Homo sapiens: one gene and its partners. The protein of the gene in region 2 interacts with the protein of the main gene of each other region in a biochemical or structural test. Each region holds a gene or a part of one and is shown on either strand. Other genes may lie near its edges. The genes, in order: AHR, CUL4B, DCAF1, SIRT1, WDTC1, KPNA4 and DCAF6.

Evidence for each region.
Region 1: the proteins of CUL4B (region 2) and AHR form a complex in vitro, tested with the Homo sapiens proteins (one study listed by BioGRID).
Region 3: the proteins of CUL4B (region 2) and DCAF1 form a complex in vitro, tested with the Homo sapiens proteins (one study listed by BioGRID).
Region 4: the proteins of CUL4B (region 2) and SIRT1 form a complex in vitro, tested with the Homo sapiens proteins (one study listed by BioGRID).
Region 5: the proteins of CUL4B (region 2) and WDTC1 form a complex in vitro, tested with the Homo sapiens proteins (one study listed by BioGRID).
Region 6: the proteins of CUL4B (region 2) and KPNA4 form a complex in vitro, tested with the Homo sapiens proteins (one study listed by BioGRID).
Region 7: the proteins of CUL4B (region 2) and DCAF6 form a complex in vitro, tested with the Homo sapiens proteins (one study listed by BioGRID).

What each region holds. Positions count from the first base shown.
Region 1 is NC_000007.14:17,343,131-17,347,449, reverse strand, and holds the end of AHR (aryl hydrocarbon receptor), read right to left. Parts: 3' UTR 1,303-4,319; downstream 1-1,302. UniProt on the Homo sapiens protein: Ligand-activated transcription factor that enables cells to adapt to changing conditions by sensing compounds from the environment, diet, microbiome and cellular metabolism, and which plays important roles in development, immunity and cancer.
Region 2 is NC_000023.11:120,536,118-120,540,462, forward strand, and holds part of CUL4B (cullin-4B), read right to left. Parts: coding exon 4,253-4,345; intron 3,256-4,252; coding exon 3,151-3,255; intron 2,654-3,150; coding exon 2,543-2,653; intron 2,093-2,542; coding exon 2,007-2,092; intron 918-2,006; coding exon 810-917; intron 1-809.
Region 3 is NC_000003.12:51,412,329-51,417,151, reverse strand, and holds part of DCAF1 (DDB1- and CUL4-associated factor 1), read left to right. Parts: intron 1-280; coding exon 281-365; intron 366-2,294; coding exon 2,295-2,528; intron 2,529-3,108; coding exon 3,109-3,202; intron 3,203-3,765; coding exon 3,766-3,870; intron 3,871-4,085; coding exon 4,086-4,159; intron 4,160-4,671; coding exon 4,672-4,773; intron 4,774-4,823. UniProt on the Homo sapiens protein: Acts both as a substrate recognition component of E3 ubiquitin-protein ligase complexes and as an atypical serine/threonine-protein kinase, playing key roles in various processes such as cell cycle, telomerase regulation and histone modification.
Region 4 is NC_000010.11:67,891,156-67,895,978, reverse strand, and holds part of SIRT1 (NAD-dependent protein deacetylase sirtuin-1), read right to left. Parts: intron 4,578-4,823; coding exon 4,425-4,577; intron 1-4,424. UniProt on the Homo sapiens protein: NAD-dependent protein deacetylase that links transcriptional regulation directly to intracellular energetics and participates in the coordination of several separated cellular functions such as cell cycle, response to DNA damage, metabolism, apoptosis and autophagy.
Region 5 is NC_000001.11:27,240,485-27,245,307, reverse strand, and holds part of WDTC1 (WD and tetratricopeptide repeats protein 1), read right to left. Parts: intron 117-4,823; exon of another isoform or gene 1-116. UniProt on the Homo sapiens protein: May function as a substrate receptor for CUL4-DDB1 E3 ubiquitin-protein ligase complex.
Region 6 is NC_000003.12:160,527,572-160,531,071, forward strand, and holds part of KPNA4 (importin subunit alpha-3), read right to left. Parts: intron 3,370-3,500; coding exon 3,284-3,369; intron 469-3,283; coding exon 382-468; intron 1-381. UniProt on the Homo sapiens protein: Functions in nuclear protein import as an adapter protein for nuclear receptor KPNB1. Binds specifically and directly to substrates containing either a simple or bipartite NLS motif.
Region 7 is NC_000001.11:168,047,653-168,052,475, reverse strand, and holds part of DCAF6 (DDB1- and CUL4-associated factor 6), read right to left. Parts: intron 1,585-4,823; coding exon 1,543-1,584; intron 1-1,542. UniProt on the Homo sapiens protein: Ligand-dependent coactivator of nuclear receptors. Enhance transcriptional activity of the nuclear receptors NR3C1 and AR. May function as a substrate receptor for CUL4-DDB1 E3 ubiquitin-protein ligase complex.

The DNA of each region.
Region 1 (4,319 bases), on a different chromosome or scaffold from region 2:
GAAGAAAAAAGTTCATTGAAAGTGTAATCAGTTTGGTTGCAGGGCCATAGAAAATGAGCCTATGGTAAGAAGTTTAGTGAACCGCAACACTGCAATATAATGGAAGGATGGAAAACAAAACCAGATCTCAGGAGATCAAAACTGTTGTTACAAAGGAAGAAGGTAAAGAAGTAATTTAATAGAGAAGAAAGTGCAGGTTCAAGTAATTTTTTTCCAGGATGGAGGAGGACCTATTCACAGGAAATCCTACAGAGAAGGAGAGCCTCTCAGAAAGCAGGTGTCGAAGCTGTGTGCATGAGAACGAGAGAGGACGGGGGCTAACCCTGGAGTTCAGGAAACTCTCCTCCTCACATACTGGAGGTAAGTCCAAGGATAGAGGAATTGCTGAGGTGAAGGTACAAACTTAGGATGATATCCTTGATTTTATTAGTAAAAACGGAAGCAAGGTCATCTGCAGACAGTGAAAGAAATGAGAGATGTCATCCAGCCCTGTCAGTGGCCAACATCCCTGGGTCGGTGTTTGGTAGAGCTGGTGAAATTGGACAAGCTAGAGTCATTCATGGTGACAGAAATCACCTAAGCGCAAGCAGAGATGCACTCAGGTTATCAGGATTTTTACTTGATTTTTTTCAGATCAAATAGTTAAAACTAAATATTTTATGTAATTCTTAAAGACTCAGGATTAGTCTAAAATGTTCAGAATTAAGTATGATGCTAACTTATGATATGCTAGTTGAGAAAAATGCCTAATTGTAAAGAACAAATATAAAACTAATAGAAAAATAACTGTCACAAGAATGAAAACATTTTCTCAGGAATTCTTCTTCAATCAATTCTAATTGCAGGGTTTTCCATGAATGTTCAACAGTTATGAATTTAAGGCCAAAGGCTTCTGTATCATTTATACTTATTAAACAGAAATACTAAGTTTGGGCAATGGTTTTTCTAAACTAAGCACAAAATACAGCTAACAAGGGTTATTTCGAATTTCTTCAGAAATATTCTTAAAATATTAAAATAGGATTTTGGATTTTAATCTAAGACACACTACTACACTGATAACACAGGGCTTTAAAAAAGTTCATTTCAGAAGCATTTTAATTTATGAAGCTACTGAGAGTGTTTTTTATATCCAGATAAAGGTCAGACATTGGGGGGCAAAATTGTATAAGAAGTTTATGAATTACTGACTTAACATATCCCTAAGTATTGTAGATTGCCCTCATCTAACATAGTTATAATACTACAGAATAAATAATTTCCTTTACGTGGACCAGAAAGAATTTACATTAAAACATATTATTCATATTTGTTATTTTATTATATATTATTGTATACAACTTTGATAATGAGGATATTATAAATCATACTTTAAGCAAAAATCTATGCATGATATATGTAAGCAGTAACATTTTGAAGAAAAAAGCCATGAAAGCATTTACCTAAAATTTAGTAACATCGAAAAACACTAGTTTGTGCATAGTAATGTTGAAAGCTTCATAATACACTAGAATACTGGTAAGTCTTCAGGTATTGTAAGAAAAACCTGGTACAGGAAAAGACTAAATTAGACACATCCATATCCTTAGATGTGCACATCATCTAGAAATAAATCCCACAATGTAGCAGTGCACTAAGTATCCTTTGTTTGGCACTTAACAATACAGACAAACGTGTATTTGGTTTAACGTGATTTTATTATTCTTAGATACATTTTAGTTATTTTATATAGATAAAAATATACAATATTGCTTTTCAAACTTTTAATTTTATAACTGTATAACTGATTGTCATCATATTCATGATTAAAAAGCCTATTTTCCACTAAACAATTTATCCAGTAACATGTGGAAGAGAGTAACAAAAATGGTTTATGTAAGACTTATAATAAAAGGTTTAAATGTAAAAATAGAGTATTAATCTAGACCTCTGGTCTAAATCCTTAGATACCTCATGCTGGAAACAAATTATGAAATGTTTCAGACAAATTTTTTCCAACACTTAAATTGATTCTACAGGTTTAAAGTTTTGACTGAAAATACACAGAACTCAGAGATATTTTGTCCGAAGCCATTTTTATATACATTAACTTACTAAAAAAAGTAAAAGAAATAAAAATTGTATTTTTTTTTTTTTTGGAGACGGAGTCTCGGTCTATTGCCAGGCTGGAGTGCAGTGGGGCGATCTTGGCTCTGCAACCTCCGATTCCCAGGTTCAGGCTATTCTCCTGCCTCAGCCTCCTGAGTAGCTAGGACTACAGGCTCACGCCACCATGCCCAGCTAATTTCTGTATTTTTAGTAGAGACAGGGTTTCACCATGTTGGTCAGGATGGTCTCCATCTCTTGACCTCGTGATCCACCCTCCTCGCCCTCCCCAAGTGCTGGGATTACAGGCGTGAGCCACTGCACCCGGCCAAAAATTGTATTTTAATACATCTCAGTTTGGGATTCCATCAGATTTTCAAATAATACATGCAAAATGTGTCTAAGCTCTTCAGCTCTCATATCTAAAGAAAAGAAGAGCTGAATGCAGTGGCTCACGCCTGTAATCCCAGCACTTTGGGAGGCCAAGGTGGGAGGCTCACCTGAGGTCAGGAGTTTGAGACCAGTCTGGCCAACATGGTGAAACCCGTTTCTACTAAAAATACAAAAATTAGCTGGGCATGGTGGCACATGCCTGTAATCCCAGCAACTCGGGAGGCTGAGGCAAGAGAATCACTTGAACCCAGGAGGTAGAGGTTGCAGTGAGCCAAGATTGTGCCACTGCACTCCAGTTTGGGCGGCAGAGTAAGACTCTCTCTCAAAAAAAAAAAAAAAAAAGAATAAAAGATGGTGTCATTTTTTCTTTTAAACCATGTTAGGACAGTAAAGTTGGTAGGGTGATTAATTTGCCTATTGGTAATGAAGATCAGTATATCATTAAAAAAACCTAAAGTTTGAAGGTAAACGAACTATGTGGTTGTCTTTTTATTAATACCAACTTTAAGCAGTTGGATTCATTACTTGATTTCTTAGAAAGACACATTGATAAAGTATGTAAAGCCCCAACAAATTAAGTGCATATATAAGGTATGGACTTTTTAAAATGAAAAACTGCAAATATCTTACAAATAATTTTGTTCATTATATCTATACAATGCACCATTCAATTCACTCATTACAATACTTTGCACCAAACCTTGCTATCTGCAATCTTAACACTCCTCAAATATGAGAAAAACACATAGTTTCCACTGTTCTAAGAAGCGAAATTTATAAAGTCAACACAATATATTATCAAGGATTATAGGTCTAAAACAGTTTTTAAAGACAATTTATACACATTGAAATGGGTGCTTTGCTTAATTAAAAAGCTAGAAATAAAGCTTCTTGCAATTTAATAAACAAGGTTGCAGTTAACAGCAGATTTTTCACATTGCAACATTCAACTATCATCATGGAGATATCAATAAAGGTAAAGAGTGGTATATTTATTTCTTCTGAAAACACTGTTGAGGAATTTAAGTGCTATTGTCTTAATATTTTTATAATAATTAAGAAATAATTTGGAAAGACATTTTACTTTTAAATTTTTTCAACATAAGGCACATAGCAACATTTATAGTCTAGAAACAACTAAATTATGTAATAAATAATTATTTTTTCGATCATTATTTGCCCTTTACCTGAAGAAAGTAGGTAAGCAGTGGAGTTAAAATATGCCTGAATTAATGAAAATGGTTGGATTTAGGAAACACAAATAATATTTGTGTGCAGAAAGATATTAATTTAAAAAAGAAAAAGAATACTTTATATAAAATATACATCCTAGAGTGTTATAGGTAGAAAAAAATGTGAGGCACTTAGATGAAACAGTGAAGGAGGAAAGCACTGAGATTATCTTTTTATAAAAAGCACCAAACCATTTATTTTAACATCTGAGATAAAAGCAGAGGTTAACATGATAGGAAAAACTAGTTTAGTTCTCTAACTTTGTATTTGGGGAACTAATAAGAATCCAGTAGCTCAAAACTCAAAGTATTTTATTTTTACTGTGACAGAAATAATTCAAATAGAGAATATTTTCTAATTTAAAAGAATCTTAGTTTCCCTGATAAAGTTTTGTATATTTTGTGGTGCCCAGAATAATGTGAAATGTAGACGGTACCTCACCACTCCGTGGCAGCACCCTTTCTATCTTGACTGTAGTATATGTAATTTTGATACCATTTTTAAACTCCCTTTTCTAAAAGCAAAAATTAAAATTTGGTTTGGAATAATTGTGAATAGCATGCATCAATGCCTCCATGTGAACTTGCTGACGTCCAACAGTGACAGTT
Region 2 (4,345 bases):
TTATTAGGATTTATACCTTTTGCTCTCTCTGAACATTTAATCATCCCCTCTTTTGAAACATTCACCTGCAGCAGCTTTTGTGCCTCTGCACTATGCTGCTTCCTTTATTTCACTGTTGCTTCTGCATTGGTTTCCTTCACAGGTTCCTCTTTCTACCATCTGCCAAATGTGAGCCTTTTCTAAAGTTCTGCCTCTGCTGTTTTTTCTTCCTCTTTGAGAGAAATCTACTCCCTGGGCCTTCATAATCATCTCCATGGAGGATTCTCAATATCTATCTGTCTAGCCTTAATCCCTTTTATGGGCTTCAGTCCTGGACTAGACAGTTTACCAGGAGTCAGGATAGATTTAATCAAGGACCCATCATTTAGCAATCCCACCTATGGGTGAAATATGTGCAAGAATTCTTAATAGCTAGGTAGAGTGAGGGGTATAACCTGGGAAGATGGAAGAAGAGCCAGGGAAATTGACCCTGAACCCAGAAATTTGGCATTATTAGCTATGTGCTTAACTGGACTTCTAAGTACAAAAGTAAAACATTAAAGCAGTTGGTATTTGGTGTTGGTGCGCTTACTGACATACACTTTTAAAAGTATCCATGCCAAGCCTGGTGACTTACACCTGTAATCCCAGCACTTCGGAAGGCTGAGGCGGGGGGGATCACTTGAGCCCAAGAGTTCAAGACCAGCCTGAGCAATACAGCGAGACCCTGGGTCTCTATTTTTTTCTAAGTATCTATTTTTAAATGACAAGCAAAATGGAAATGCTATGATTTCTATGCCTATAACTCAGTTCTAAACAGTAACTCTTACCTCTGGTGGTAAATGAACTTCCATAGGCACATATGTCGGCCAATAGCCCATTGTCAGGATATTCACAGTTAACTCAATATTTCCCGGAACATTCTGATTCTGCATATACTATAAGAAGATCAAAACACACACTGAGATCTTAAAACTGCATACATTTCATATCATAATAACCTATTTAAGAAGTTCCCTGTTATGAAATTACATGCAAACACTGACCATCCTTAAAATAAAAGGCAACTATTAAGAAGACTTTAAATGAAACCTACACAAAATGCACTAGGCAAGTACAGAGGTTAACATTTTGATACAAAGGCATACAAGGATCACATGACCTCATTACAGGCGTTATCAACTTAAATAATTTCTCACATACAGCTGGGCCGTTATAGGATCTCTTCTCCATTCTTTTCCCCAATACCACCTGCAGTCCCCACCTTTGAATACCCCTATGTGGCTTAAACACCTTGCAGCAACCCCCATTCCTCACCCCCCAGCCAGCCCAAGTCTCCAGTTTTTCACTTGCTCCACTGCCTGTCTGCAGGGAGTGACCTGGAGTAGGGAAGGAAAAAGAGGGGAAAAGGGCAAAGCAGATAAGCCCTATTCTGTAGCTACTATAGAATCCATAATCTTACTGACCCTGATTTTTTCTTAATTCTTTCACTTCCACTTCCCACCTTAGCAACACTGTGGGGTAAAGAAGTCACTACTAAAACCCAAAAGAGGAAAATCTAATTTGCCATCATTATCACCTATGATCTTAAACATTTCAAAACTACTTTCTACCTACATCTTCAAAACTGTGGATCTAGCTTTCTATCCCCAATGTCCCCAAAGGCTTTTATACAGCTGCATTATCACTTCTCCTCTCTCCCCATTGCAAGCTCTGAACATGCAAATTACCAAACGATAAGATGCTGAGGAAAGCCCTTTTCCCACTATAGCTCTTCTTGTACTGACTTCAGTTCAATACATTTTATTTTTATTTTTGTGTTATTCTGGGTGTTTGTCAAAAATAAATCCTAAAGTAGGTCAAATATACTTATATTTCACCAATTTTTTTTTCTACTGTGAATATCACCTCAGTTGCCATGAATTACAACAAACACGTTTCTATTTATCCTCTTTAGTACAAATCATAGCAAGCAGATAACTAAATACAACTAAGTTTGAGGAATTAAGAGTTTAACTCACTTTTACCTGTTTGAACTGAATCATGATGTCTTTAGAAAGTTCCATGTCTTTAAACATTCCTTCAAGTTTGCTGGTGAAAGCAGCTCCGCATTCTATTAAAGATGTTTGTACATGTATAATATTTTAAAGTGGTAAAAACAAAAGAGGTTTAAAAGTGGGAAACACGAAATACAAAACTTTAGTATGAAGTATGATCTGTAACTTTCATAAGAATAAAAAGAAATCCTTACCCCAAAGTGTATGCCCCATTAATTCAGAGTCAAACTCTTTAATCCTGTAGTAACCTTATCTACTATTTAGGTATAAAATAAATGGGAAATTTTTATACAAATAATAAAACCAAGAACAATGCTTTATCTTAAAAAAAACAACTCTGGATATTATGTACAATAAGTTGGAAACCTCAGGAGCTTGCTCAATTTATGTTTTCATCATATATACATAGACATGAGTGACAAAAGAGGAAATCGATTGAAAGGGTAAAAAGCTAACATTCTCCTTCAGGAATCAAAGAAAAGGAACAGAAAGAATGAGAAACCTACCATGTTTAAGTTTGGACAGCATTGATTTTTCAGCATCTACAGATGCACTCTTTCCGACTAACAGGCGCTTGGCTAAATCTTTCTTATAGAAGGCCTCAAAAACATCCTTGCCTATGTAAAAAGAAATGCAAAATTTATAATATTCCAATAAAAAGTACTGACAAAACTGCTTTAAAGTGCTTTAATAAAGCACACCATTATTCCAAGTTATTTTACTTTACACATTTTATTTAAGTTTGTTAAATGCAAGAAACAGTAGAGATCCATTTTTGTGCCAGACATTTCGAAGTCTTTATTGTAAAACTTTTTTGCATGTAACTGTCTTGATTGCATTAACTTTTCTTCAGAAAAGCTTTTGTGGACTGGTAGCTTTGGTGCCAATATTTAAGAGATTAAGCCAAGTAGCAAAAATCAAGGCACTTAATACTAGAAGAGCCAAAGCATAGGACAATCAGGTAACATTCCTCACGTATCCCCCCAATGAATTAAACACAATTTTAAATCTGTAATTTCCAAATAAATATTCCCTCCAGTTTGAATATACTTGCTAGCTTCTCTGTTGAGTGCTATTTTAAAAGAAAAATATTAAAACATTAGTAAATACTTACCATAGATAAATCTAAATATGATCATAATTTTATCCAACATTTTCTCAAGTTCTTCATCTGTAGCTTCTTTGTTGCCTGCACGAAGTTTTGAATCTACATACTTAGCTAAAATGGGGGAAAAGTTTGTTGTTTAATAACCGGGGAATACACGAGGTACTGGGCACTATATATACCCAAAGAGGAGTATGATACACTGAGTTTTTCAATACTTCAGAAATTTATATGCATTTTTAAAAGTCTCCAAAGTCAGGAAGATCAACTGACTTGTTCAGTGCCATAGAGCTAATAACATCAGGGCCTGAACACAAACCCAAGTGTTCTGACTCCAGATCAAATGTACTTCCCACTATACTGATGTTTATGAAAATAGGATACGGATATCCTGTGGGGGAGGTCTCATGTAGCCCTGTGAGGGCATCATGTAATCCAAGCCACGAAAAGACATGAGGAATCTTCTGGAGTATCCATTTTATAGGAATAGTAAGCAATCTTAAACATTACTTTTCTATTAAAATAAACCAGATACATCGTAGAGTAGAAGGTAAAATTTGCTACATGTTTACGGATACATAGTAGATAGGTTGCAACAAAATTTCATCCTTTTGGCAGAGGACCCTAGACCTTCTCAGGTTACCTCCTCCTCTGACACTAAGGGTACTTGGGTGGAAAAACCTGAGAAGCACTGTAGTGTATATCACATCCTTATGCTAAATGGGCCCAGATTATTAGGTTTATTTTTGCCCTGGACTTTTTTCTTTTTCACTGACAACTGTAATTTCATGCTGCCCTTTTTTGTAGCTTGAAATAACACCCTGCCTCATTTTTAAATCATTAGGCTAGGAAAACAGATTAGCTTATTATCAATAAAGGTAAATAGTGTCCAACGTACTGTCTTTGAAAGAAAGCACATTATGTTTGACATGTGGGCTTTCAGTACTTACATCCAGGTTTTTAGAAACACTCTTCAAACTTGATATACCAGCTAAGCAACCTCAAACAAATCAGGAATTAGTAATACTACAACCTGGTAAAAATTTCAGATTGAGATTTTATGACTCAAAGAACATCATTAAACAACTGGAAAAAGGACTGGAAAACATACCTATAAGTTCAGCTGGTTTATTTGGTCTTTTGTTAATGAACGTTTCAAATGCTTCTTTCATGGCATTGATAAATTTCTCATTCTTCAGAAAGC
Region 3 (4,823 bases), on a different chromosome or scaffold from region 2:
GCTACCATGCCTGGCCCCTTTGCTGCGTGTTTCAAAGGCACATGTGCCCTGTTTGTCATTTCTCTAAGGAATTCCCATTCATTATTTTGTATCTGCTTGGTTAAGGTGATAGAAGGAATTTTCTTTGTAATCTAAGTGTATGATTGTTTCCTCTTTGGGAGTCCAGGATCTTTAGGTGAGTGTGATTGTGCAAGAGGCTGGGGGTCACCTGTGTTTCAGTTGGTTGCAGGAATATGTCCTGAAGATCTGTCACTTCAGTGCTCCTGTTGTTTGTCCATAGGCATTCCTTCACAGAAGATCACTATGTTGAGTTCAGTAAGCACTCCCAGGATCGGGTCATCGGCACAAAAGGAGACATTGCCCACGTAAGTACTTAAGAACCACTGTTTTCAAGCTGATCATACCCATTTGTTCATACTGAAATCTTCTTGATAGAATGTGAGGACCTAAGTCCTTTGGGCAACTAGAAATCAGTGATATTCCTTCTAGTTAGAATCTAAAAGTATGATAATATAGTTCTGAGCTGTATGGGAAAAATGTATAAGGGCTAAATGTGACATTGAGAAAGATGTCATTAGCACCACAGATATTTTTGAATTCTTAGTAAGTTTTAGATTAGAAATGAAACCCCTGCCTTTATGGACCCTCATTGGGGAGACAATAAAGAAGCAAATATACGGTAAATTTAGGTGGTAAGTGTTTCAGAGAAAATGAAAGCAGGGTAAGAGGTAGGAAATGCTTGGTGGTGGTGTGGGGGACTTCTCTTTTATCTAGGGTAGACAGCATCACTGATGGGGTAATGTTTAAGCAGAGCCTTGAAGGAAACGCGAGATTCAGGAAGATACCTGGAGGAACAGCGTAAGGCACAGGAAATGGCAAGGGAAAAGCCCTTGCTTGGGAGGTGGGAGGAGAGCTGAGGTCAGTGAGGGGCCTGTATCTGGTAGCATCTTGTAGGTGGTAGTTAGGGCCTTTAGCTTTTTTTTTGAGTGAGATGAAGACACTGGTGGGTGAGTAGAGGATACATGAGTGGATGTAAAGTTCCTGAAGTGTGACTCTGGTTTTTGTGAGAGAAGCAAGAGCAGCCTTCCAGGTCAGAGGGTGTTGTACCACCTGACACATGAGAGGAGCTGTGGGTTTGGGCCTGGGTAGGCATGGTAGAGGCTATGAGAAATGGAGGACCTTGGCCCTGGGATTTTGGACACATGAAATTTGAGATTCTCTTAGACATTCAAGTAGAGAATGGGGATTGAATACAAAAGTTGGGAGCTGGCCAGACTTAGTGGCTTCTGCCTGTAATCCCAGCACTTTGGGAGGCTGAGGTGGGAGGCCAGGAGTTCGAGACCAGCCTGGGCAACATAGAGAGACTCCCCCCATCTCTACAAAAAATAAACAAAATTGGCTGAGCTTGGTGGGCTTGGGACCTATAGTCCCAGCTACTCAGGAAGCTGAGACGGGAGGGTTGCTTGAGCCCATGAGTTGGAGGCTGCTGTGAGCTATGATTATGTCACTGTACTCCAGCCTGAGTAACCAAGTGAGACCCTGTCTCTGAAAATAAAAACAACAAAAAATTGGGAGTTCAAGAGAGAGGTGTGGGTTGGGAAATATAAATATGGGACTTGTCCACATATTGACAGTATTTATTTATTTATTTATTTTTGAGACAGGGTCTTGTTCTGTCACCCAGGCTGCAGTGCAGTGGCACGATCACAGCTCACCACAGCCTTGACTGCCTGGACTCAAGCAATCCTCTTACCTCAGCCTCCTGAGTAGCTGGGACTACAGGCGAGCACCATCACACCTGGCTAATTTTTTTGTATTTTTGTAGAGACGGCATTTCCCCAACGTTGCCCAGGCTGGTCTCGAACTCCTGGGCTCAAGTGATCCACTTTTCTTGGTGTCCCAAAATGTTGGCATTGCAGGCATGAGTCACTGTCCCCAGCTGATAGTATTTACAGCCATGAACTTATATGAGATCATCAAGGGGACTAGAGAAGAGTTGTGGGTATAGAACCCTGGCATGTGTTTAGGAGTTGCCAAATGAGGAACTTGGGAAGGAAATCAAATATAATGGCCAGTAAGGCAGAATGGAACCCCGAGAAAAAGAGGTGCCTGGCCGGGTGCGGTGGCTCACGCCTGTAATCCCAGCACTTTGGGAGGCAGTATTCTGTGGTAATCATTGATCCATGTGGAGAATTTGTGTGTTAATTTTAGAAACTGCTTTGCACATTTTCTCTTTAATTTGTCAGTGGATGGATTGGTCTGATTTTTCTCTTCCCATCCCTTCTTCTCTAAAGATTTATGATATTCAGACTGGCAACAAGCTGTTGACTCTGTTTAACCCAGATCTTGCCAACAACTACAAGAGGAACTGTGCCACCTTTAATCCTACAGATGATCTTGTCTTAAATGATGGCGTCCTCTGGGATGTCCGCTCTGCACAGGCCATCCACAAGTTTGACAAGTTCAATATGAACATCAGTGGTGTTTTCCATCCAAATGGACTGGAGGTGATCATTAATACTGAGATTGTATCCTTTATACTCATGTCTTACCTTCCATTTGTTGTCTGGTTTGTGGTGCAGAAATAATTTGTTCTATCTTTATACCAATACCTGGTTAAAGTGTCCACACTGGTAATAATATGGTGCCTGTCCTTTGGTTTGAAATGTTAGTGAAATCTCCAAAGCACTGTTGCCAATGTTAGTAATTACTGACAACTTTCACTAGCATGTTTTCTATGTATTTGGTAAGAGTGACCAGTTTCCTACCTCCCAGTTCTCCAAGAATTGAATTAGCTTTTATCTGTCTTCAGAAGGATTTTACTTTTGCTCTGTAAAAAATCAGTTGCCACATAAGAGGAAAATGAAGTACTACTGTTGGGAGGAAAAGAGCTCATAAAGCATTCCTGTATATGAGGATACCCTAGGATATTTTCAGAGACATCATTCAATAATATGCATTCTACATGTATTTGTTTTACCTTGATCTCATTGACTTTTAAAGTATCAATACCTGGCAGGAGGAAAAAAAGTGATATTTTAGAATTTCCTCCCATGAGATTAGATAAGTTTTGTGTAAAATAGTTTTCCTTGACCATTCCCCTCCTAGTGGGACCTTCGAACTTTTCATCTTTTGCATACTGTTCCCGCTCTGGATCAGTGTCGCGTGGTGTTCAATCACACGGGAACAGTGATGTATGGAGGTAATAAACCTTATCCTTCATTATTCTCTTTCCTTTTGCTCTACCCCTTCACTTAATTTGATACTTCTTTTTGGAACCATCTCTCACTTGTGAATTGGAAAGCATTTGAGAGTTGTAACATAAAAGATAAAAAATTGATAGTATGAATGGTGACAAAAGATATGAAAATAATGTTGGTTTAGGGTGAAAGGCAGCTTACTTTGAAGATAACAAGGAAATCTTGTATGGAAAGAAATTTCATGCAGTATTTTCCAGTGTATCATTATGAACTTAAGAGCTTTTGCATTTGTCCTCTTGTGTTGTTATAAGCCTTGTAAGTACAGTAACACTTCTTGGAGGTAGATGAGAGGCTGAGGATATTATTTGTCACAATAGGTGGGATATGCAAGGAAGATGCTCTGAGAGGAGCTAACTAGATGCAGAGTAGATTTCTGTACAAGGGAATTTGTATGTAAACCTATATGCAAGTAGATTGTTTTGATTGGCCATTAACATTTTCTGCACTTGTGAAGAGGGGATGTTTGTGATTCCTAATAGTGTTTCCTCCCCCACTCCCCCTCAAGCTATGTTGCAGGCAGATGATGAAGATGACTTAATGGAAGAGAGGATGAAAAGCCCCTTTGGGTCATCCTTCCGAACATTTAATGCAACTGACTACAAACCTATAGGTAAGCAGAAAGGGACAGACATTGAACATTTTGTCGTGTTTTGGTGTTCCTTATTTAAGATCCTTCATTTTCTGGAGGCCTGTAATTTTTTATTGAAAAACAGAGAAGTTATGGAAATACTTTTGAGCAATCATCCTGAATTCCTTTAGAGGAAAAGCAGGTTTTAGGGTCACAGCAATAGTCCAATCCCAATCTTCTCACATTCTATTTTCCAGCAACCATTGATGTGAAACGGAACATCTTTGACCTGTGTACAGACACCAAAGACTGCTATCTTGCTGTCATTGAGGTAAAGGGAGCTTGCAGAGGCCCTGCTCTTTTGTTCTGATGTTTAGGATAATTTTCAAGTTGTACTACAGACATTTTGTCTGATATAAGATGTAAAGTCAATACATTCCTGAAGGTAGATTATTGATAACCTATTCATTTGATGGGGCTTGGGAGATGTACAGTACAAAGAGAAATAGTAAGAAAATCCCAATATAAGACAGCTTAGAGGATCCTGTCTCCTTTTTTTCTGGACTCACACTGTCATCCCTTTCTCAGAGGAATCTGGATCTCTCACCAGAGCAAGACTGGTTTGTTCCAAGGGTGATGGTTCCTCACCAAGTCTTTTCATTCTGTTTTTCTTCCCCTTTATGTGTCCTAGGTATAACATTTTCATAGTCAGCTCAAGAATTTCGGGTATCAGAAGCTTTAATAATTACAGGGTCAAGGTCATGGGCACCAGTCAGGGCTGAGGCGTGGATGTGGACCTTCTGAAAAGTAACTGCTCCTTATGGACTGGATGTTCTATTTCAGAATCAAGGCAGCATGGATGCCCTGAACATGGACACAGTATGCAGGCTGTATGAAGTGGGCAGGCAGCGTCTGGCAGAGGATGAGGATGAAGAGGAGGACCAGGTCAGTGGTCTTTGAGATTTCTTTCTGCTGAACAGTGCTTAATAGAGGTT
Region 4 (4,823 bases), on a different chromosome or scaffold from region 2:
CCTGAGGTCAGGAGTTCGAGACCAGCCTGACCAACATGGTGAAATCCCGTCTCTACTAAAATTAGAAAAATTAGCTGGGCGTGGTGATGGGCACCTGTAATCCCAGCTACTCAGTAGACTGAGGCAGCAGAATTGCTTGAACTCGGGAGGTGAAGGTTGTAGTGAGCCGAGATCTCACCACGGCACTCCAGCCTGGGTGACAAGAGCAAAACTGTCTCAAAAAAAAAAAACAAAAAAAAAAAAAACAAGTTAATTCTCAATAATCACATACAATCAATGATATAATAGATGGTATAGAAATTCTTTCCAAAAAAAAAAGAAAGTCTCTCTTTCCTTCTGAAGTATCTAAATTTCACCAATATTTCCTTTTCATGGCTTCATTTTTAATGTTTTCTCATAAGTAGCAAAAATCATAAACCACTTTAGTGAACTTTCTGCCTAGTACACTGACTCACAGAAAAGCTTAGGTTATCCTATGAATATTCTATTCTTGTAATATTTAGAAATTCAGTAAAATATCGACAATATTTACATACCCTCCCCATCCTCCGTGTCAGGATACTATCCTGCACTCTTTGTCCTTACTTATTTCTCCTTAAGCGCTTTCGGCTCACTGCAACCTCCACCTCCTGGCTTCAAGCAATTCTCCCCGTCTCAGCCTCCTGCGTAGCTGGGACGACAGGCGCCCGCCACCCAAGCCTGGCTGATTTTTGTATTTTTTATTAGAGACGGGGTATTGCTGTGTTGGCCAGGCTGGTCTTGAACTCCTGACCTCAGGTGATCCACCCACCTCGGCCTCCCAAAGTGCTGGGATTACAGGTGTGAGCCACTGTGCCCAGACTGGAAGCTTTCTTTTTTTAGTCAGTTCCCAATGTGAGAATTAAAGGATGGACAAAGAATTATATGTGAGTAACAACTGTAAAGCCTAGCTGATTTAACCATTACCATAAATGAAAACTCAGAAAAGCAAAATTAAATTTATCAGCTGGACATTGTGGCTCACACCTGTAATCCCAACACTTTGGGAGGCTGAAACGGGCGGATCACGAGGTCACGACGAGACACGTCCTTGCCAACATGGTGAAACCCCGTCTCTACTAAAAGTGCTGATCGTGATGGCACGTGCCTGTAGTCCCAGCTACTTGGGAGGCTGAGGCAAGAGAATTGCTTGAACCCGGGAGGTGGAGGATGCAGTGAGCCGAGATCGCGCCAATGCACTACAGCCTGGCAACAGAGCAAGACTCCATCTCAAAAAATAATAATAATAAATAAATTTATATAAACAGGATTAGAAGAGGCTACACCTTATAAGTGACTGAATTTTTTTTCAGTTTAACAATAAAAAATGTATTCTCCATAACTAGTGAGTCAAGTTTTTTGTAGTTGATTTAAGATCAAAGTAACTTCTAGTTACTTGCTGGTCTTCTGATAGTGTCAATGTCTGCGCTACGTGGAGATTTTATAAATGCCAGTGTCCTAGCTCCAATTCAAGAAACCTTTAAGTCATACTTCACTGGTCTTCAAAACCATGCAGTAGTGCCACTAGCAGGAGTAGGTTAAAACAGTAAATCTTCACTAATCCATAATTAACAAAAAATAACTTTACATTATTTATTTAATCCAGGTATGAACCAGTTGTCTGCTCTAAAAGCTAGATATAGATGACCATCATCATTACGGATATATGAAGTAAAAAGTTCAAATTATATAAGTTTTAAGTTAAAAATTCTCTTGATAGCCTGAAAACTTTTCAAATTCAGTTTAGTAATCATATTCAAGAATTAATATAATTTTCCCACTTTACACTAATGCCCATTTAATATACCACAACCTGGATAAAACAAAAGTTACATGGGGTGGAGGGGTGTAGTGATTAGGGTCTCACTGTGTTGCGCAGGCTGGTCTCAAACTCCGGAGTTCAAGAGATCTTCCTATCTCAGCTTCCCAAAGCACTGGGATTATAGGCACGAGCTACTGCATCCAAAAAATCACTTTTTTTTTAAAGACAGTCGCCAATTTAAGTAACATAATTTATTCTGAATTAGCAAAGCTTCTCCTGTAGTCATGTAAATATACCACATGGTCTGAAAGTAGATAAGGCCACTGTTTAGTTAAAATTTAGGTTCATCGGCAGGGCGCGGGGCGCGGTGCCTCGCACCTGTAATCCCAGCACTTTGGGAGGCTGAGATGGGCGGACCACAAGGTCAGGAGTTCAAGACCAACCTGGCCAACATAGTGAATCCCCGTCTCTACCAAAAATACAAAAATTAGCCAGGCATGGCAGCACGCGCCTGTAGTCCCAACAACTCGGAAGGCTGAGGCAGGAGAATCTCTTGAACTCGGGAAGTGGAGGTTGTATGGTGAGCAGAGATCACACCACTACACTCCAGCCTGGGAAACAGAGCCAGACTCCGTCTCCAAAAAAAAAAAAAAAAAAGCTAGGTTCATTAACTTCTGGATTCATTAAAGAAGTCCCTATTCACAACTTCTAACGATTAGGTGGGGAAAAAGCCACTAATACAAGACTCCTTCGCTGGAAGCCATCATCCTCAGCAAACTAACACAAGAACAGAAAACCAAACACCACATGTCCTCACTCATAAGTGAGAGTTGAACAATAAGAACACATGGACACAGGGTGGGGAACACCACACACAGAGGCCTGTCAGGAGGTGGGGGGCAAGGGGTGGAAAAGCATTAGGACAAATACCTAATGAATGTGGGGCTTACAACCTAGATGACAGGTTGATAGATGCAGCAAACCACCATGGCACATGTATACCTATGTTAACAAATCTGCGCATTCTGCACATGTATCCCGGCACTTAAAGTAAAATAAAATAAAATGACTCTTTCAAATATATATACCTCCAAGTTTAACAATAACAAATTTTGTAATTTCTTTCCAAAAGACTGAAATACAGGAAAGAAAACAGTTTTCTAATGACTCAATCTCTTGAGAATGGTGTAATGCATTATTAAACTTTCTATGCTAAAGCAGAGCTGTACAATAGGTACATAATGTGAGACATACATATAACTTTAAATTGTTTAGTAACCACATTAAGGTGAAAACTGGCCAGGCGCGGTGGCTCACGCCTATAATCCCAGAGCCTTGGGAGGCCGAGGAGGGTGGATCACCTGAAGTCAGGAGTTCAACACCAGCCTGGCCAACCTGGTGAAACCCTGTCTCTACTAAAAATACAGAAATTAGCTGGGCATGGTAGCGGGCGCCTGTAATCCCAGCTACTCAGGATGCTGAGGCAGGAGAATCACTTGAACCTGGGAGGCAGAGGTTGCTATGAGCCAAGATCATGCCATTGCACTCCAGCCTGGGGGACAAAGGAAGACTACTTCTCAAAAAAAGAAAAAAAAAAAAAGTAAACTTCAAAAAACATACATATATTTTGGAAACACTCTTGCTCTGTTGCCCAGGGTGGAGTGCAATGGCAGATCATGGTTCACTCAGTCTTGAGCTCCTGAGCTCAAGGGATCTTCCCACCTCAGACTACTGAGTGGATGGGTCTACAGGTGCACACCACCATGCTCAGCAAATTTTATTATTTATTTTGTAGAGATGGAGTCTCATTATGTTGCTCAGGCTGGTCTCAAACTCCTGGGCTCAACTGATCCTCCCACCTTGGCCTCCCAAAGTGCTGAAATTACAGGCATGAGGCAACACGCACAGCCCAAAATACATTTTATTTAACCCAATATCAAAAGTATTTCAAAAGAATTCAAAATTAATTTTAAGTATTTTTTCCATATAAAAACCAATATTTGTTTAATATTTGATGAATAAAACTAATGAAATACTTTGTATTTTCCATACTGGATCTCTAAAATCCAATATGTCTTCTACACTTATTGCACATATCAATACATTTCAAGTACTCAACAGCCACATGTGGCTAGTGGCTTCTGAACTGGACGGTGCAACTCTAGAGCAGAATAATGATCCTCTGCAATTTGCTGACAAAAATGCAACCCAAGAATCTTCCCATTCTCTAATTACAAATGATTTTTCAGGCACATCCTTATGTTAAAACTTGACTACGAAACACCAAAGTGATGTTATAACCTTTACAATCTCTAATAAAATATTAAAAATCACAAGTTATGTTACTTTTATATGGTGTGCAAACCTCTTAAAAAAGCCCAGGCAGAATAACGACCATCGCTGCAGTGCAAATTTTAAAAATATGAACTATCTCTTTGAAAATAAGCTCACTCCTAAAATGAAGTAGATAATAGTCCTCCTCTAGGAATAAAGGAATTCTAGCCATAATGAGTGATCTTACTCCGCCACAGTAGCAGCATTCACTTTACTAAACAATGAACGATAACCTTAAGGTGGCTGTATGTGAACAAAATACTTTTTCATGAGAGAAGGCCAAAGAAACAACCAGAAGAGTTCATAGTACCTTTGCAAACTTGAAGAATGGTCTTGGATCTTTTCTGAAATATTCAATATCAAACATCGCTTGAGGATCTGGAAGATCTGGGAAGTCTACAGCAAGGCGAGCATAAATACCATCCCTTGACCTGAAGTCAGGTATTCCACATGAAACAGACACCTAAAATGTGCATGGCATAATTTGTAAAATTAAATCTTCTACCTTTATAGGAACTAGCTAGCTCTCTTACCATATAATTAGGTAAGAGTTGAGAAAGAAAATTTTAGTCTGAAACTTCTTTTAAGAAATAAAAATACAACCCTACCCTTATTTCAGAAATAAAACTCCCAAATAACTGAGTAAAATTAAACATACCTCATATTCCATCTTTAACACAGATAAGGAATTTTTAAGTCAGGCCAATTT
Region 5 (4,823 bases), on a different chromosome or scaffold from region 2:
CTGCCTTACACACAATGTTTTATACCTATCAAAGCACTTTTGTTCAAGCTTTTAATTTGAACTTTGCAACAATCCTTTTAGGAAGTTAGAAAGCTAATATAACGCTGCTATGAATAATGCTGCTATGAATATTCATGTACGATAATAATCCCCATTTAACAAGGGAGAAGTGAAGCAGAATACTACATGGTACTGAGGAAGAAGCACTGGACTGGGAGATCTAGGGTCTTGTGCTCCAAGCCAGCCTCTGCCTTTAACTGGCTGTATGACCCTGAGTGAGGCATTTTGCTCTCTCAGTCTATTCTGCCGTTTGTAAAATGAGAGGTGGACTCTGAGATAAGCTACAAAACCCCTTCCGATGACACTATGCTGAGATTTTAAGTAGACACTACTGGTTAGCAGCAGACCAGAGATGGAACCTAAAACATCTGTATTCTCTTTCCTCTGGACATGCTACCTCCCATAGCAGAGACGTGCCCCCAACCAGGGTGACAACTGACCCCCTTTCAACATTCTGAATTATGCAAAGATGTATGCAAGTTTCCTTTCACTCTATTTATAGTGGTTCTATTGGAGCAATCCTACAAAAAAGATGAAAGATGCAACGAAGCAAGGACTCAACTTCACTTTCAATGCATAAAGGTCATTGGAAATAACATAAGGCCAGGTGTGGTAGCTCATGCCTGTAATCTCAGTGCTTTGGGAGACCGAGGCAGGAGGATCACTTGAAGGCCGGGAGGTCGAGAGCAGTCTGGGCAACAGAGTAAGATCCTGTCTCTATAAAAAAGTTTTTTAAAAATTAGCCAGGCATGGTGGCACACTCCTGTAGTCCTAGCTACTAGGAAGGCTGAGGCAGGAGGGAGGAGGGAGAATTGCTTGAGCCCAGGAGTTTGAGGCTATATTGAGCTATGATTGTGCCTCTGCACTCCAGCCCGTGTGACAAAGTGAGGCGCTGTCTCAAAAACAAAACAAAACAAAAGAAAGAAAGAGCATAATAAAATGAAGAGTGTAGCTGTGGACCTAACAGATCTTAGGTTCAAATCCCAGTTCTGACACCTATTTTCTGTCTGACTTGACATTTCTTTTAAATTTTTTTTTCTTTTCTATACCTCTTACGTCTCTTCATCTTTTTAATTTTTTTAAAAAAATTTTTATTTGTTTTGAGACAGGGTCTGGCTCTGTCACCCAGGCTGGAGTGTGGTAGCATGATCTCAGCTCACTGCAACCTCTGCCTCCCGGGCCCAAGAGATCCTCCCATCTCATCAGCCTCCCGAGTAGTTGGGACCACGGGCATGCACCACCCACACACACCTGGCTAATTTTTGCATTTTTTTTTTTTTTTTTTGTAGAGATGGGGTTTCACCATGCTGCCCAGGCTGGTCTCGAACTCCTGGGCTCAAGCGATCTGCCCACCTCAGCCTCCCAAAGTGTTGGGATTATAGGCATGAGTCACCATGCCAGACCCTGACTTGACACTTCTAAACCTTAGTTTCCTAATCTGATAATACCTACCTCTGCAGGGTGAGGAGGAACAGAAGCGCTTGCATGTAAAATGCCTGACACTGATCCTATTAAATAATATTTATTGAACATTCTAACAGTTTACAAGTGTCATCTCACAGACTCCTCATAATAATCCTATGAGACAGGTGCTATTGTTATCCTCATCTTACAGATGCAGGATCTGAGGCACAGAAAAGTGAAGTTGCCAAAGCTACACAGTTCTTAGACAGAGAGTCAACCTATACAGTCTGACTCCAGGGGCCAGGCCATTGGCCACTAAATAATAATTACTGGGCCGGGTGTGGTGGCTCACACCTGTAATCCAGCACTTTGGGAGGCCAAGGCGGGCAGATCACTTGAGGTCAGGAGTTCCAGACCAGCCTGGCCAATGTGGTGAAACCCTGTCTCTATTAAAAATACAAAAATTAGCCGGACATGGTGGCAGGCGCCTGTAATCCCAGCTGCTGGGGAGGCTGAGGCAGGAGAATCACTTGAACTCAGGAGGCAGAGGTTGCAGTGAGCCAAGATCGAGATCATGCCACTGCACTTCAGCCTGGGTGACAGAGTGAGACATTGTCTCAAAAAAAAAAAAAAAAAAAAAAAAAATTACTGGCCAGGGAGCAGCGGCTCACACCTGTAATATCAGTATTGATACAATTTCAGGAAGCTGCTGAAACTTTGTCTCTTACCATTCCTTAGGGTTAAGCTGCCTTGACTCTGCTGATCTCAAACACAAATTTAAAGAGTGCCATTTCAAGGTCATGGACTAAGTTGGTACAAGGACAGTTTCTGGGAAAGCTTTCGCTGGTAGGATAGACTCATCACCAAAGCATCTTCAGGAAACTTCTTAGCCATCTTTGAGGCTCCTGGCTTAAATAATCCCATGTAGGACTGCTTGAGGTTTTCTCTGCAGAAGAGAGCTGCTTCTAAGCAATGCTTTACTTTCTGGGAAGCTTTAGATAAAAACTCACCTTGATGTCTTCTCCCCTGCCCAGTGGGCTCCGTATTGCTGTTTGAGCTTTTAAGAGACAGGGTCGCCTGGGTGCGGTGGCTCACGCCTGTAATCCCAGCACTTTGGGAGGCCGAGGTGGGTGAATCACCTGAGGTCAGGAGTTTGAGGCCAGCCTGACCAACATGGTGAAACCCTGTCTCTACTAAATACAAAAAATTAGCCAGGCGTGGTGGTGCATACCCGTTATCCCAGCTACTCGGGAGGCTGAGGCAGGAGAATCACTTGAACCCGGGAGGCAGAGGTTGCAGTGAGCCGAGATTGCACCATTGCACTCCAGCCTGGGCGACAGGAGCGAAACTCCGTCTCCGTCTCAAAAAAAAAAGAGACAGGGTCTAGCTCTGTTCCCCAGGCTGGAATGGAATGTAGCACTATCACAGTTTACTGCAACTTTGAACTCCTAGGCTTAAGGGATCCTCCTGCCTCAGCCTCTTGAGTAGCTAGGATTACAGGTGCAAATCACCATGCCTGGCTACTTTTATTTTTATTTTTTGTAGAGATGGGGGTCTCATCATTTTGCCCAGGCTGTTCTTGAAGTCCAGGCCTCAAACAATCCTCCCATCTCACCCTCCCAAAGTGCTAGGGTTACAAGTGTGAACCATCTGGCCAGGCACGGTGGCTCATCCCCGTAATCCCAACACTTTGGGAGGCCAAGGCAGGAGGATCACTGGAGGTCAGGAGTTGGAGACCAGCCTGGCCAACATGGTAAAACCCCGTCTCTACTAAAAATACAAAAATTAGCCAGGCGTGATGGCACACGCCTGTAATCCTAGCTACTCAGGAGGCTGAGGCAAGAGAATCGCTTGAACCCAGGAGCCTGAGGCTGCAGTGAGCCAAGATTGCACCACTGCACTCCATCTTGGGTGACACAGCGAGACTCTCAAAAAAAAAAAAACAAAAAAAAACAGTGTGAGACATCACACCCAGCCACTTGTTTGAGCTTTGTGAAAATTTTTTCTGGATGTTTTCAGAACTTTGTTTTCCAGTGATCATAGCTAATTTTCCTGTCTGCTCTTAGGCCTCACAATTACCTTAAGATAGTGGAAGGAAACAGAGAAAAGGGAGCATATTTTGATAATGCTATACTCTCTCACTATTTAAAAGCATCTGCAGTCTTTAACTTGCATCCTGACAAATCCTGCCACAATTCAAAATATCTCTTGTAGAGAAGGCTCTGGAGTTTCATCCTGTAACTCTACTACTAGCTGCAAGGTCAAGGAAAACTAAACCATTCAAGTTAGAAATGTTTCCTTTCTAACTCAGTGACAGTAGTGTTATATCCAGATGTGTAACTCAAAAGGGAACCAGGTAGGCCATCAGCACCCAAACACTCAGGCCTCAACTATGAAGCTCCCTGACCATGAATGCCTAGCTCCCATTCTCAGGAAGGCCCCCTAAGAGGTTCAAGGATAAGCAGTTTTATAGAATTTGGGGGGTCATGAATAAGGACAAAATTGTACAAAAGTCCTGATCCAAACACTGCCCTCAACAGCCTCTGGAGAGCTCCCTGGGCAAGGTCTGATCCTGTTCTCCACCCCATCTCCAAGAAAATGGGGTTAATACCTCCCCAGATGGCTATACGGAGGATTAAGGGTCATTATTCTTGGCACTGAGCTCTGTTACAGCTCTAGCAGTTGTGACCTTGTATCCTAAAAGAAGATAATAAATACAAAAATGCCAACGGTGACCCTCAAATCTGGCTCTGCAGTAGTAGCTGAGAATTTTCTTTGCACAGGGCCTCTGACACTGCCTCCTATACACTCTGGCCTTTTGACTGCATCCTCCCCTTATTCAGGCTTAAAGTTTTTTTGTTTTTTTTTTTTGAGATGGAGTCTCACTGTCACCCAGGCTGGAGTACAGTGTTGCGATCTCAACTCACTGCAACCTCCACCTTCTGAGTTCATGCGATTCTCCTGCCGCAGCCTCCTGAGTAGCTGGGACTACAGACACCCGCCACCACGCCAGGCTAATTTTTGTATTTTTAGTAGAGACAGGGTTTCACCACCTTGGCCAGGCTGGTCTCAAACTCCTGACCTTGTGATCCGCCCACCTCAGCCTCCCAAAGTTCTGGGATTACAGGCATGAGCCACTGCGCCCAGCCCAGGCTTAAAAGTTTTTAAGGTATTAGTCTTCAATGCCACAAAGCCCTTCAAGGAGTCAGCAGCTATTACTTAATAGCTCAAAGAATGGGCCCTAGAACTCTCAGAGTTACACATAGGCCTGAATTTACCCAGAAGAAGCCAACTAAGTGGTATTCCTTTACATCCAAGCCCTGGCTCTTGAGGGCAATCAGTGAGGTCTAGTAAAAAGG
Region 6 (3,500 bases), on a different chromosome or scaffold from region 2:
AGTTTTGTCTTTTTTCTTGTTACTTTCTTTGATGGAGAAAGCTGAGAAATAAAAAGGGACCCCACTGATCAACATGGGGGTTAGGGGAAGAAAAAATGGATCCTAGCATGAGACAGAAGGTCTAAATTGTATACATCTTGCATAATTATTCAAATAATTAAGAGCTAACTATATACCAAAAAAATGGTATCTTAAGCAACAAAAATTCTATTTACTATGACTTTATGCTTTTACAGTAATACAGTTCAAATTTCTGTAAGCTATTTCACAAAAACTAGTACTGAAGGCAAACTGTTTTCTCTTTTGGATTACTAGTAGCTATTTTTATTACTTAGTATATGATAACAATTTTTAGACTAGTATTACAAGTTTTATACAAACCTATGATATTTCCCAATGCCCACACTGCTTGCTCACAGACATTCTGATGGGGTGAATGGAGAAGCCTCAGGAAAAGTGGCACAGCATCTGATGGAAGAAAAAATAACAATACTTAAGGTTGAAGATACCATAAACCAAAAATCAATCTTTATTTTTTTGCTGAGACCTCAAAAAAAAGGGAACCTATAAAAATATACTTAAAATATAACCTCATTAAATGAATTTTATTGGAATAGCATCATTGGAAGAATTTTGACCAGTGACTATTTACTCAGTATCAAAATGAGTTATCCAGACAAGTGTTAAATTAGGCTTGTGAAATTTCATTAACAATTAAACCTGGAATTAATTTCAAGATTAATTCCTTATAGATTATCTGTAGTTTGAAAAAAAAAAGTACATTATTGAAGTAACTTTTTTTTTGTTTTTTTGAGACGGAGTCTCACTCTGTCATCCAGGCTGGAGGGAAGCGGTGGAATCTTGGCTCACTGCAACCTCTGCCTCCCAAGCTTCAGTGATTCTCCTGCCTCACCCTCCCAAGTAGCTAGGACTGCAGGTGTGAGCCACCATGCCTGGCTAATTTTTGTATTTTTAGTAGCGACAGGGTTTCACCGTATTGGCCAGGCTGGTCTCAAACTCATGACCTCAAGTGATCTGCCTGCCTTGGCCTCCCAAAGTGCTGGGATTACAGGCATGAGCCACTGCACCCGGCCTGAAGTAACTTTTGAACACAAATTTATGTTAACAACATGTGGGTCTTTAAGACAGGCCAGTGATTCCTGGGCCATGTGGGATCTTCCGAATCAGAAAGTGATTCTGTTACTCAACAGGATGGGAAACAGAGATAGGTCTGTATCTGAACAAAATACTGCACTGAACAAATGATTCTTCTTCTTTCCTTCTGATATTACTTTAAAAAGCACTATTTAAGTATATGTAGCTCAATCATGCTTGTAATATCATAAAAGGTAATTCACTTATGGGTTTGTTTTTGAGATAGTGCCTTACTCTGCTGCCCAGACTGGAGTTCAGTGGTGTCACCACAGGTCACTGCAGCCTTGACCTCCCCTGGCTTAAGTGATCCTCCTACCTCAGCCTCCTGGGTTGTTGGGACTATAGGTGCATGCCACCAAGCCCGGCTAATTTTTTTTTCCTGCATTTTGTAGAGATGGGGTTTTACCATGTTGCCCAGGCTGGTCTCTAGCTCCTGGACTCCAGTAATCTGCCTGCCTCAGCCTCCCTAAGTGCTAGAATTACTGGCATGAGCCACCATGCCCAACCTCATTTATTTATTTATTTATTATTTTTGGTATATTAAAGCAGACTAGCAGGGTCAAAAAAATTCTAAGCCTCTTTCTAATCTTTAGAGAGCATACATAACAGAAAGGAAAAAGTGTGAGAGGGAATAAAACATTGTTATGAAACCAAAAATTTTCCTAAGAGTCAGCTATACAAAACCAAAAAACCACAATAAAAACCACCTGAACCCAAAACCAAACCAGTTTTAATAGGATGTGAGGTAATTATCTTTTCTAAGTAATATTACAACATAAGTGTCTACAGTAAAATGATTATTTGGATAACATCTTTGTTCCCCTTCAAAATGTACAAATTAGTGCTTACATTTTTAATAAGCTCAGAGAAGTATGCTGCTTACATATTTAAAGAGGATTTTAAAAGTATCTTCTTTAAAATTATTAATTTCTTTGTTTGGTAGAACAATCAAATACTATTCATGAAGACAATACACTCGGGTTCTTACTTCCAATAATTTTCCACTTACATTTCTTGAAACAAAAAAAAGCAATCCTATTATAATAACAATGAAAAAAAAATTCGAGCCATTCTTTCAACTAGGACTACTTTATAGAAGATTTCTTTAAAATATATGATATGGCCGGGCGTGGTGGCTCACACCTGTAATCCCAGCACTTTGGGAGGCCGAGGCAGGCGGATCATGAGGTCAGGAGATCGAGACCGAGACCATCCTGGCTAACACAGTGAAACCCCGTCTCTACTAAAAATACAAAAAACTAGCCGGGCGTGGTGGTGGGCGCCTGTAGCCCCAGGTACTTGGGAGACGGAAGCAGGAGAATGGCATGAACCCGGGAGGTGGAGCTTGCAGTGAGCCGAGATCGCATCACTGCACTCCAGCCTGGGCGACAGAGTGAGACTCCATCTCAAAAAAAAAAAAAAAAAAAAAAAAAGAGAAAAATCTCATTAAGAGAGGCTGAGGCCCGGTGTGGTGGCTCATGCCTATAATCCCAGCACACTGGGAGGCCAAAGCAGGTTGATCACTTGAGCCCAGAGTTAGAGACCAGCCTGGGCAACATGGTGAAACCCTGTCTCTACAAAAAACACAAAAATATTACAAAAATTAGCTAGGCACAGTGGCACATGCCTGTAGTCCCAGCTACTTGGTGGACTGATGCGGAAGGGTCTCTTGAGCCTGGGAGGCCGAGGCTACAGTGAGCTGAGATTGTGCCATTGTATTCCAGCCTGGCCAAAAGAGTAAGATCTTGTCTGAGAAAGAAAAACAACAACAACAAAAAAACAAAAACAAAAAAAGAGAGGCTGAGAGGCAATGTGGCAACAGGAAAAACTCCTTTATTTCTACTGATGTCCTATAAATAAAGTGTAACAATAATAATGTAATCTGCTACTATAATTAGGAAATGTTCTCATATTTAGAAAGGAATCAAGTGAATTTTTGGAAATACAAAAAACATCAGTCACCAGAATAAGAAGATTAAAGTAACATACTTAAGTTGACCTATTTCAATAACTACGTAGTAGCTATTATTTTATAATTTAAATTGCCATAGTCTTTTGGGAAGATCACTATTTTTTACCGACTTCTTTTAAAAAAAATCACAATTATGTTTATTAATAACCAACTTACTGGACTGAACTACTGCTTGAGTTTGTTCAGAAGTTCCAGATGCAATGTTTGTCAAAGCCCATGCAGCTTCAAACTGTAAAGAAGGACTACAAAAAAAAACAAGTATTTTTAAACAGCAGGGATTTTTACATTGGGCCAAATATCTAACCATTCTTCCTTCTACCATTTAAAATGCATTAAATATTTTGTTTCAAAAGTTATCTATCCATCCAGCATA
Region 7 (4,823 bases), on a different chromosome or scaffold from region 2:
GAAATAAAATGAAGTAGAGAAGAATGAGTCTCACCTCATTCACTCTACAGGGAGGTAACTGTTACATTTTCTGCTTTACCATTGTTTATCAGTTCATGATAATCTCTACTTTAGTGTTTCAGCTTTTCTAAAACTCAATTAAAGCATCATGGTACTTTATAGTTGCAATTTTCATTATAAAACCAGAAACCAGCTTTGCGTACTTGTGATAAAAAGTATAAATCAGGATATCAAAAAACTCTGAAGCAAATTCCATTTTATTGTCATACAATTAATCAGAAAGTGATAACTAGGCCAGATGCGGTGGCTCAAGCCTGTAATCCCAGCACTCTGGGAGGCCAACATGGGCAGATCACTTGATGTCAGTAGTTTGAGACCAGCCTGGCCAACATGGTGACCAACCCTGTCTCTACTAAAAACACAAAAATTAACTGGGCCTGGTGGGTGGGCGCCTGTAATCCCAGATACTCAGGAGGCTGAGGCGGGAAAATCACTTTAACTCTGGAGGCAGAGGTTGTAGTGGGCTGGGACTGCGCCACTGCACTACAGCCTGGGCAACAGAGCAAGGCTACATCTTGGGGAAAAAAAAAAAAAAAGAAAGTGATAACTAGTAATAATTTGAAAAAGTTATTTCAAATATACCTTAATGTTAAAACAGGCTAGAAACAACAGCACAAAACAAAACAAGTTTGAGAAGCAAAAACAAATTTGAGACTTGTAGATGAGAATCCTCCTGACAATGAACCATAACCAGAAATTTCCATACATCTATTATATTTTTTGGCTTATTTCATGACTTCTGTATTTTTCATTAGGAACTCTACAAACTTTACATTTCTGATTGTTGCTATATGTTTCATGTTCAACTGTTTTAGAAACTGATGGTAAATAACAGATATATGCCTCTAGAGTTAAGTACAAGGTTGATTTTGTCAGCAAAACAGGTTTTCAGTAGGTGACTGATGTCATTGAGGTTCACTTTAAAGATCTACTCAAAAATATGTCCCAAATAGAGAAGTGCTTGAGGCTTATATATCATCTTGATATGTGACACTATTTCTAAACTATTTATAAGGAAACAACTTTCTTGCAAAAATCAGAAACCTATACACAGATTTAGATTCAAGTACATTTTTAGTTATTGAGCTCAAGGAAAAGGAGCATATACGAATAACAAAAAGTTGGTAATTGTTATCCCAATCAAATTTAAAAAACATAAATTGCATTCTTCAACAAAATATCCAAAAAGAGTAACTGATACTTAAAGTACATCATTTCAGATTATAGTTACTTTGCCATATGACATATTTGAAGTGAACATCAGTCTGCACACAGGAAATTTCTTTTCATTCTATCCCCATGCAGTGCATGCAGCTAAATATAGTTTGTGGAAAGCGACCTGCTTTACAATGCTTAGCACTTAGAATTCAGTAAGTCCAAAGGGAGTATTAACTGTTAATAGGAAAGGTGGTTAGCTGTGGCAAAAGAAGACCTGGCAAATCCATCATAAAAAAAAAATTATGAAGGAACATACTGAATTACCTCATTATTCTATCACCTATTGTTGTTCCTCTGATATTAAATCTAGTGAAGGGAACACAATAACTGAAATCACTTACAAAGACTTCAAAGAACCAAATATTTAAAGCATTAAGGACACCCTTTTTATCATCAATCATCTCAATTTAAAAAAAAACTTTTGTTTCCCTTTGTGACTTCGGGCATTAAGCAAGGAATATGTCAGTCAACTAAATGTATATGAAGAAATTAAGGAAACAGAAACACTCATTGAAGCTAGAATAGAAGGAAGACATTGCACTTAATCCCTTTTATCTTTTAAATAAATCAGAACCCAATCCTGTCACAGTATGGGAAACTGCACTGGCTTATAATGAATACCATCCTCTGGAACACGTACATGCTCCTCAAAGCTGAGGAGCTCTTTGGAAAATAAATAATTAAGCCCTAAGCTAATTCACTTGGCCTAACCACAAGACTATATAACAAATGAGCAAAGAATAACAGGGCTTTTAACTCCCTAGGAGTCCAGTTCTTTCTCTTTGAGTACATCTTTTCTCTCTGCAATTTTCTTTAATAAAGAGTAAACTGCAATAATGAGAAATAAGGAAATCATGGTTACAATGATGACTGAATAAATGCTGCCAAATTTACAGTACAAGGAATTTTGGCTTTAAAAGTGAGGGCTATGCTCCATGGTCCAGAGTAGGTATATGGAACCAAATTTCTATGAAAATAACACTTTAAAAGTTATTAAAGGGCAATATAGGATAAATCACTCTTTAGGGAAAAAATTGTTAGATCATCCTAACTGAGGCTATAATTAAAAACTATTCAAGACTATGTGAGGACTTATTCAGGAAGCTTTCTTAGATGCTTGTTTTTTTTTTTCAGAGAGTAATTTAGGTTTTCTCTTGAGTTTAGAAACAGTAAGAGCTACCAATCAGGCCGTCAAATCACTTACAACAGATTTGGCATTGTAAAAAAAAAAAAAAATTATACAGCCTGGGTGCGGTGGCTCATGCCGGTAATCCCAGCACTTTGGGAGGCTGAGGCAGGCGGATCACGAGGTCAGGAGATCGAGATCATCCTGGCTAACACGGTGAAACCCCGTATCTACTAAAAATACAAAAAATTAGCTGGGCGTGGTGGCAGGCGCCTGTAGTCCCAGCTACTTGGGAGGCTGAGGCAGGAGAATGGCGTGAACCTGGGAGGCAGAGCTTGCAGTGAGCCAAGATTGCCCCACTGCACTCCAGCCTGGGTGAGGGAGCGAGACTCCGTCTCCAAAAAAAAAAAAAAAAAAAAAAAAAATTATATGCAGATTATCTAAACAGAGATCTCAACCACACTCTTTTCATTCCAAGGGCATATATTTACGTTTCTTAACCCAGTATATGGCCAGGCGCGGTGGCTCACGCCTATAGTCCCCCAGCACTTTGGGAGGCTGAGGCTTGAGGCCAGGAGTTCAAGACCAGCCTGGTCAACATAGTGAGACTGTCTCTTCTAAAAAAAAAAAAAAAAAAAAACAACAACAACAACAACAACAAATTAGCAGAGTGCAGCAACATGCACCTGTAATCCCAGCTACTTGGGAGACTGAGGGAGGAAGATCGCTTGAGCCCAGGAGTATGAGGTTGCAGTGAGCTATGATCATACCACTGCACTCCAGCCTGGGCAACAGGGCAAGACCCTGTCTCAAAAAAATAAAACAAAATGAAATAAATACAGTATATAAAATCACTAAAAGATACACATACTATTTTTTTGCTTTGTTTTGCTTTTTTCCTAAGTCAGACTTATTTTTGACATTAGGACTAATTTTATTTTTTTAAACACCATGATTAGAGAACAAACATTTCTTTCTGTCTTTTTTCAATTTATTTCCCATTTACTGTTCCATGTTCTTGCCTTACGCAAAGTTAAAGGGAACCCAAATATGTGGAGATTCATATTATTTCATTGTTTCAAAGTCTGGATTTTTGCCAGTAGAGGCATTTTACCACAGACTATAGTTTGATTTCTCTCTATAACACTGATTACTATAGAGCAGGTATTTGCAAGCTATGGCTCTTGGGCTAGATCTCCGCCAAATGCCGATTTTTGAAATGAACCTTAGGCTAAGAATAGTTTTTACATTTTTAAATGTTAATATTTTAAATGGTCATATAAGTACCTACCATAATGGTCTCCATTTTGTCTCCTGGCCAACAAAGCCAAAATATTTACTATATGGCTCTTTAGGAGTAAGTCTGCTGCTCTGCTATAGACTCCCAGTTACATTTACATAGACTTGCTGTAGTTAATGAGAAGAGCATTCCATTTAAAAATATCTATGTTAGTTGTTAAGGTCTTCATTTTCTAAGACATTTCCTTCTCATGCTTGATCTCAGCCCAAAAGTGAAAACCTGGGTCATTTATTTAACCAAATTATAAGAATGTAAATATTTTTTTAAAAATCATTACTCTGTATTGCAAGGAACTGTTCTGATATTTTCAGTAAATTTGTCAGAAATGACTTAGCTATAAAGCCTTTTAAAGTTTCCTTTTAAAAATTAAATTTGGAACAAAAACTGATGAGGTCCACTATATAGTTCTTCATATAAAGTACAGATCAAATTAAGTATACACTTGTATAATATTTAATTTTAGGACCACTTCTCTACCCCAGCTAAACTAATATTGACTGGGCTTTGCAAATGGCAGCATGGAGGGAACTTTAAGACATACATCCTTTTAGGTGGGCATTTCATCCATGTGTGCAATGTATCCTTGGACTCTAGGAACCAAATGGTATGATTGTTACAACAGAGCTTCACAACCCTTAGTCTCTTGGGAAACAGAAACTCTCCAAAATCATAGGACTAATTACAAGCTGGTAAGTGATTCTTTTCATGTTCTTAAGAAGCAAAATCTCTTAAACTTTCTCTCTTTAGAATAAAAGTCAGCTAAATTGAGAAGTAAGATAAACTGGCAGGAGTGTCAATGATGAAGAGCCCTTAGAAAGGTGCAGAAATATTAAAAGTATACTTTTTTACAGTTGTTCAAGATTAAATCAGGATGGTGCCAAAAAAGTTAAGAATTATAATAACCGATTTAGATAAAAGTCAGAGGAAATATTTACACCATTTACAAATTTTTGGTAAAGAGCTAGAAAATAATGCAAATCTCAAAGGAAAATTAATGTAATTGTTACTCTAATCACTTTCTAATTACCTCAGTATACACATCTTTTATATATATATACACACACACACATATATATATAATTGTATTTACTTTCATATATTAAATGTTTTCTATGTTCC